2 linked regions of the Homo sapiens genome follow. The protein of the gene in region 1 purifies or fractionates together with the protein of each later gene. This does not show direct contact. Each region holds a gene or a part of one and is shown in the gene's direction. Other genes may lie near its edges.

Region 1 (4,022 bases):
GATCTTTCTTAAGACATTTTGAAAAGCTATTTTAATATTTCACTACAAACAAGTGATAATATTAAAATTAAAGTATATCTATTACAAATACATCAGTAAAATATTTTGTGACCGAATTTTAAGAATTTTGTTATATTTTTCAAATGAAATTGAAAAAAATTAAATGTTTATCTAACATCACTTTTATTGACACATTGATATTGCATAACTTTGAATTTTTTCAGAAACTATACAAGGGAAATTAAATCCTGCATTTACATTTGCTAGCAACTAATGAGTGTGGACTGAGGATAATATTTCTTGCTTTACAGGTTAGTTTAAAATAACACGATCTGCACCCCCATAATTTCTAATTAACCTTTTTTCAGAACTAAATAAACATCAAATTAGCCATCAGAATGAATCTCTACAAGTAAGGGGAAATGGAAAGGTAAAGCAACATTTCAGTAATACAAGCCAAAAAGTATGTGCATTAATGGGAAAAATTTTTGGAGGAAGCTGTTACTGAGAATGACTTTTTCTGTCAGATTCACTAAGAAGTTGCTTGGCTTTTATTTGTGAGAATATTCCATTTTGAAGGCACTATTTTTACACTGGTTAATTAAAAATATTTACCCAAGCCACTTTTCTTAAACATTTCTATTTATTACTTTTCTGCACATTTGTAAAAACAAATTTTTTCCCCAAAGTATTAATAATTAAAAATATGTTTGTCTCTTGACCATCTACATTCATTCTGCAATAGTTTGTTTTGGGTGTCTACATCTTGACTTGATATAAGAAGAGCTTTTGTCAATGTTTAGTTACTAGTTGATTTACTTTGGGTGAAGTAATTTCCTGGCTATCCTGAATCATATCTGCTTCTTTTATTTTCTTTCAGAACATTTTGAAATGTCTTACCTATTATATATGTAATTTTTCTTCTTCCCTGGGTTCATGCCAATAGGCTTCATCTTCCTATAGCCTCGAAGGCTTACAGAGGATGAACAGAGTTATTTTGGAGGGGTGAAAGAAGAGCTGTAGAGTGGGCTTCCCTCTCAGCCCACAGTAGGAGAGAATGGCTACATCTTAAAACTTGAGGGACTCTGGAGCAGGCTCTTCCTTGCCACAAGAATGTGCCTCACAGCCTGTAGTTTCTAACTTCTGGTATGCTTTCTGGCCATTAAACAATATTTCATTAAAACAAATCCTCCATTTTAAAAATTGAGGCCAAGTCAAATTAATTAACTCACATACCAAGTCATCTATCTCACCATACTAAGAATTAGCAGGAAGTCGACACGAGACAATGGCTTTGAGAGTGAACACCTTCTTAGGGGGGAAGCAAATGGGGCAGACCCATTTCTTAATCCTGACCTTTTTTTCTAGGTCCAGCCTATCTATTTATCCCCTTTTGCTATGTCACATGACATTGAAAGTACCTGTTTAAATGTCTGCATCTCCCATTAAACTCAAATCTCCTTCACGGTATCCAATGTTGGATCCATAGTGCTTGGTGCATAGTAGGTGTCTAAAGAGCTTAACATTGTTGTCATTGTTATTCTTGAATTAAGGCTTGTTTATGCTTTGATGCTACCACATGGAGCTATGGTCTTGGTGACAGAGACCCTTGTGTGCTCTTCCGTCATATAGTTTGTGGCCTCTTCAGAATTGCTTGTAAACTGTTATTTATTTCACCAACAATTTTAACTCTGCTCCAACCCTTAAATCTCTTGCCACTAGACCTACCAGAACCTGCCTTCCCAATGTCAGCTTCACTTTTAATGTTTGCTTTACCTTCCTTGCTGTTGATTTAGCTGGACAAAGAGAGACATAACTGTATCTTGTAGCCAACTACCAATTGCTTCACTCCAATGTCAGCTTGGAGGATACTTTGTGCAGCTATTTTATTCTTTTTTAGTTAATGTCATATCAAATTCTCCATGGTACATATTCTGGATTTTTCCAGGTTTTCTAGTCTGCCCAGATTATCTCCAGACTCTTCATTCTTAGCAGAGGACCATACTTTTTAATTCACAGAGGATGTTAAGGTCAGTTTGGGCAAATTATTTGTCAACACTCATCTTGAATACAGTAAGCATTTCTTTGACCAGCTGTGAGCATAAGAACTCTTTTCTTATATTCAGCTATCGAATTTGTCTCTATAATATTTATATCTTTAATTTTTTACCTCTTAGAGTATTTATAGAAAATGCTTTTACATCTAACAACTCTTAATAGTGTCTAAGATAATATTCAGTTTCTTCAACCCATGCTTATTTACCATGGGTTGAGAGTCTCATTGTTACCAGGGCTTTTCTCTTTTGGATGCACTTCTGTTTTTATTAAAGTGTGATCCCCAGAGTTTAACATAGAGGACTGTCCTCTGATATATTTATCTTCTCTGGATATCATGTAGTAAATCAACCTGAAATCTATTCTACTCTTCCCCCCTCCGTTTTTTTTTTGCACTCATACAACACTGTTTAATTATGTATCTTTTTTGCACATTCTTCTGCAAATACACTTATTTTCCCCATCGAATTTTATGTTTGGCCACTTGATTTGGGACTTTTACAAATACTTACTGCAATTAAATTTAATCATTACCTTTAGTTAGCCTGTTGTTCCAGAAAGTCAAGGTCATCTTGGATTCTGAGTCCTTGATACAGAATAGCCATTTTCACCAATTTAGAGGAATTAACAGATTTGATCAGGATATAATTAACATCTTCATCCAAGTAACTATCTACAATGCTGAACTGGAACTACCTTTGGCATATTCCTAGACACCGTCCTTTACGTTAGACTCCTGCTTTACATTAGTCCATAAATTATTCCTCTTTATAAGGCTGTTCAACCAGTTATATAGTCAAATAACTCTCTTTGAAGTTGACATTCCTTTGTGTGACTTAAGAGAGTATACTGAGACAGACTTGGTCAAATTCCTCCCTGAAATGAGTCTCCACTTTCTGCAGAATAGATGTCAAGTAACTGCTATTAAAAACAAAAGGAGATAACTAGGTTAGTTGACAAGGATAGGTTCCTGTGACCTCTCCTTATCTTGTAGATAACAGCACTTCACATTTTGAATGCTTGCATGCCATGTTTTTAATCATCTCTTTGGAATAGTACCTGCAATTAATGTCCAGCTCTCTAAATTATAGCTGATGGAATCCACCTTCCCAATTTTGAAAATTGAGGCAATGGTTGGACTCTGTCAACACTTCTCTTCATCACAATATTTTTAAAGATGACTTTAACAATTCCTTTATTTTATCCACACATGCTTTCAATATTTTGTAGTGTAATTTCTCCAAATTAATGGATTTAAACTCATTTAGAATATTTGCTATCATTCTACATGCTGGACCTTTGTTATTTTTAGTTTTGTTCTACTTTTATAAGTATGGATATTGTTTTCTTAAGGAATGGATATGAAACAAAACAAGAGCAGAGTAGTTCTGCCTGTTTGTTCATGTACTGTGATTTGAATATCTTTATCCAGTGTGCTCTTCCTATATCTAATAAAAATGCCATTATCACCACTTTATCTGGCAATCATAGCAAGAATTAAAAGGACATTTTTTCTTTTTTTTATAAGCTTCAACTTATTTTATGTCTTATATTTTATAACACTCTTCTTAGAGACTCAGCCACTATTTTGTACTTCTCTCAATAAAGTTTATTATGGATTATGCTTGTCACTGAGGAAGATACAAAGCAAAGTTTATGACACACACTCCTTGACTTGAAGGAATTTAAAGTCTGCATGAACAAAACCAAGAAATAGTCTCAGAATTATACATGTCAGCACTTAACAATGAGCATAATATTTGTAGAATAGTTTTAATAAGTTTTAAAGAAGTTAGGAGAAGGAAGAGAGTTCGGTATGATGGAAATATTGAGTAAGGCTTTCCAGAGGAAATCTAAGACTTAGCTGAGGTTTTAAAACAAGATCAGGATGTTGGACATCACAGGACCTGTAGGATTTAAATGTGGCAAACAGTAGGAAGAGTATTCTAGACAGAGGAAAGGAAAGG
Region 2 (3,936 bases), on another chromosome or scaffold:
GGCCTGTCCCCGAGGCTCCCCGCCTGACCTCCGTTTCTGTTTCTCCGTCTCCCTGCCATCTCCACTGGGGTCTCGCCCACTCCCACTCGGGTCTCTGCAGGAAGCCGTGCCCTCCTCCCACCCTCTTTGATCTCCCGTTTCAAAGCCGCTCTCCAAGGGAGGGGAGGTCGCTCCTTCCGCCCGTTTTACAGCTCAGGATGGTGACACCTGAGACCCTGCTCCGCCTTCTCCCCCGGCACCCATCCTCCCGCCTATCTAGGTGGTGGCGCAGCTCGCCAGGGCTCCGCGCCTCTGTCCCCGCCTCCCTCCCTTCCCCCTACTGAGACCCCCTCGGGGTCTCGGGAGTGAAGCGACAGAGAAAGCGTTTTAATAAAGACCTTGCGTCAAGTGATTGGCTGTGACCTCTGCCCTCCCAGCCTCGCGCCCTGGGCTCCTGCTTAACCCTTCAATGTCCGCCCAGCGCATTAAGGGGAGCGAGTCGCCTGGCGACTACTTCCAGAGTCCCCAGGCATTACGTGAGCCCGAAGCAGGGTGGAGGGGTGGGGGGACCGTGCCGCCCCCGCCCAGCCTCTCCGAGTTGTTCCAGCAGGGGGCGCCGTTGCCTCACTTAGATCCCTAACCCCCGGAACCCCGCAGCTCCCAAGCCCCTCTCTGAGTACGGAGTGGTCCCACTGGATCCAGTTCAGGGTTCAATGGAGCTAGGGCCAGCTACGGCTCAAGATCTGGGGTCCGCCTGCGGGTGGGGTCGCCAGGTGTCCGGCACCAAGGAGTTGAATGCACCGAGTCAGGTTGGGGATGGGTGGGGAACAGGCGAGACGTGAGGAACTCGGGTGGGGGACAGCCATACACGAGCCCTGAGCATCTGCGCCCGCAGCTAGCTCCCCCCGCCTCTGCGGAGAGCGCGATTCAAGTGCTGGCTTTGCGTCCGCTTCCCCATCCACTTACTAGCGCAGGAGAAGGCTATCTCGGTCCCCAGAGAAGCCTGGACCCACACGCGGGCTAGATCCAGAGGTTGGTGGCGGGGGCGCAGGGCCCCCCAGGTGGGGGGGGGCGGAGCGGGAGGCGGGGCCACTTCAATCCTGGGCAGGGGCGGTTCCGTACAGGGTATAAAAGCTGTCCGCGCGGGAGCCCAGGCCAGCTTTGGGGTTGTCCCTGGACTTGTCTTGGTTCCAGAACCTGACGACCCGGCGACGGCGACGTCTCTTTTGACTAAAAGACAGTGTCCAGTGCTCCAGCCTAGGAGTCTACGGGGACCGCCTCCCGCGCCGCCACCATGCCCAACTTCTCTGGCAACTGGAAAATCATCCGATCGGAAAACTTCGAGGAATTGCTCAAAGTGCTGGGTAAGGAAATGTTCGAGGGCCCAGGTGGGGCAAGGGGGGGCTCTGGAGTCCTCGAAGTTGGGGATGAGAAAGACAGCGGGACCACAATCAGGGCGTGAGACACTGGGTGCCTGCATCCCCGAAAAACGTGCCAGGCGTCCGGGTCCCGGGGCTCTGGGCACGACGCCTAAATCCCGCTTTCTCCTGCGGGGGCCCACCGGTGCCAACACTGCGGTGACTCACGGCCTGTGAATCACGTAGAAACCAGAAGCGCGAGGTTGGCCTCTGGGGGAAGGGGAGGCTGGCCTCAGCGGCCGGACTCGGCGGGCCGAGGCACCTGGCTCTCTGCAGTTCAGAAGCTGCGGGCTGGTGGAGCCACGAACCCTGCATCCAGACTGGGAGCCCGGTTCCCTACCCTGCCCAGCCGCTCGGAGACATTCCAATCTCCTTCCCGGTGCCCCCCTCGGTAACCCAATCCCCAGGGCAGGCTCATTACCCCTCGGCGCCCAGCTCTGCCTGCGAGGTGATCTGCTGCCCCAGCGCCCCCTGAGCCCCACTTTCCTCCCCCTCTGCACTTTCCACTCTGCTCTCCCCACCCCCCATCTGTGAGACAAGTATTTTCATACAGCGAGCAGCTCCAGAGTTCTAAAATCGCTAGGGATAATTATCACTTTCTTGGATTTCAACAAATGGTTTCGTGTGAAACCCCAATCCCACATTTCCAAAAATCTAGGTTCCCACCTACCTCCCCCGACCATAGATCGGCTGCAGCCCAATTGGGTGTGTTGGTCAAAGGTGGGGAAAACTAAGTCAATCCAGACTGCCTTTCCCACTTTTCCAGCCCACCTTCTGTGTGCCCTCTGGGCCAACTGGGCTAGACATCTGGGGCAGGGGAGAGTGCCAGGACCTGGTGACTGGGAGAGGACTCTGGGGGAGAGATGGACGTTAGTTAAGGACCCCAGCCACTGGGAGCGTAAGGGCAGGCCTGCTGCCTTCAATTCCTGCACTCAACAGAGAGACGGTAGTTCGGCTGGGTTGGGCGAGAGGGGAGGGAGGGAAGGCACCCCTCTCCCTGGACTATAGGAGTGAGTCTGGATCTAAGACAGGTCTGGAATGCTGCAGAGAGAGCAGGGATCTCCATCAGTCCTTGCCGTTAGTTCTTCCTGCGATCTAACCACAATACTTCTTGGAGTCATATCAGTCTTTCTTGCTCTGTCCTTGCTAAACTTAAAGACAAAAAGAAATTTTCTCTTTGGAAAGCCTAGATGCCACTCCCTCCTCATCTTCTCTGGATTCTGGCCCCTGTCCTCAGTGGATGAGGTGGTGGTCTGGTACACCCCCAGGCCCCAGCTGAAGAGTAAGATTCAAGGCCCCAATCCTGCTGTCTGTCTTCAGTCTGTTTGTCCTCCCTGCAGGGTCTCTCTGAGCCACGTGCCCTCCTCAGGCCCTGCAGGGGGCAGATTAAAAACAGATCCATTAGACAAACACAGTCCTGAGCCAGCTAAGGCCGGCTAAGCTGGGCCCTCAGCTCCACAGGCACCAGGGGCTCGCTGAAAGGATGTCTCCTCTGAACCCAGCCTTGCCTCTGCAGGAACTTCGGTCCTGGCACACCCCTCTTAGCTCTAGTCAAGGGTCCATCTCAATAAGACTTGGGGACCTGTCATTTCTTCCTAGACACAAGAGTTCAGCAGCCAACAATGGGGGTCCTGGGCTCCCCAGGGGCAAGGCTTCCTCTCTCCCTCTCTCTTCTGTTTGCAGTAGGGTAGGTATGCTTTGGCACTGAGGGGAAAGAGGATTTGTTTCTCTAGGAACCCAGGTCTGGAGGAGGTCCAGGGAGTTGGCCAGATCAGGGGCAGGGAAATCCTGCTACCTGGCAGAGGGCCCTTTCACCCCCGCCTAGTGCATCCCTGGCTCTACTCCAGGACAGGGCGGCAGATCAGGCCAGGTGAGGTGGGTGTGTGGAGCTTAGACCTGGAGCCCATCCAGAGAGGCCCCCTGCTCTGCACGTCTTCCTTTCAGAGGGGTGCTGTCTCCTATCTCCCCCACTTCGGTTAATAACTGGGGAGCAGAGAGAAGGGGTCCAATCTGGGCTGGGATATGGAGGTGCACAGAGAGTCTGAATCCACGAGGCTGAATGAGATAGCCGGACCCTGTGAGGGGAGTGGGGGGTCCTGAAGAAGGGGATACATCACACAGAGCGGGGAGGGCAGTCTCCTTTTCTATTCCTTCTTCTCACAGCAGAGGGGGTTCCCTTGAGGGGACAGGGGTATGGGAGTCTTCCAGAAGGGCAGATGAGTACGGTGCCTAATGCAGAGAGCTTTGAGCCCCAGCTTTTTGCTTTCCTTTTTTTTTTTTTTTTTTTTTTTAGTGGTAGGGTCTCACTGTGTTGCCCAATCTAGTCTCAAACTTCTGGGCTTAAGCAGTCCTGCTGCCTCGGCCTCCCAAAGTGCTGGGATTACAGGCATGAGCCATGGCACCTGACCCTTTGCCTTCCTTTTATCAGTAAAAATAATACCAACAATCATAGCTATTGTTTCCTGAAAACTTAAGCATATGCCTGGCACTGTGTGTGCTAAGTCCTAAACACATACCATCCCAATTGGCTTTTTTTTTT

What was found.
Region 2: the proteins of GUCY1A1 (region 1) and CRABP2 purify together in Homo sapiens (affinity purification with mass spectrometry; one large-scale study listed by BioGRID and IntAct). This does not show direct contact.

What each region holds. Positions count from the first base shown.
Region 1 is NC_000004.12:155,669,582-155,673,603, forward strand, and holds part of GUCY1A1 (guanylate cyclase soluble subunit alpha-1), read left to right. Parts: intron 1-224; exon of another isoform or gene 225-311; intron 312-4,022.
Region 2 is NC_000001.11:156,702,784-156,706,719, reverse strand, and holds the start of CRABP2 (cellular retinoic acid-binding protein 2), read left to right. Parts: upstream 1-1,136; 5' UTR 1,137-1,273; coding exon 1,274-1,343; intron 1,344-3,936. UniProt on the Homo sapiens protein: Transports retinoic acid to the nucleus. Regulates the access of retinoic acid to the nuclear retinoic acid receptors.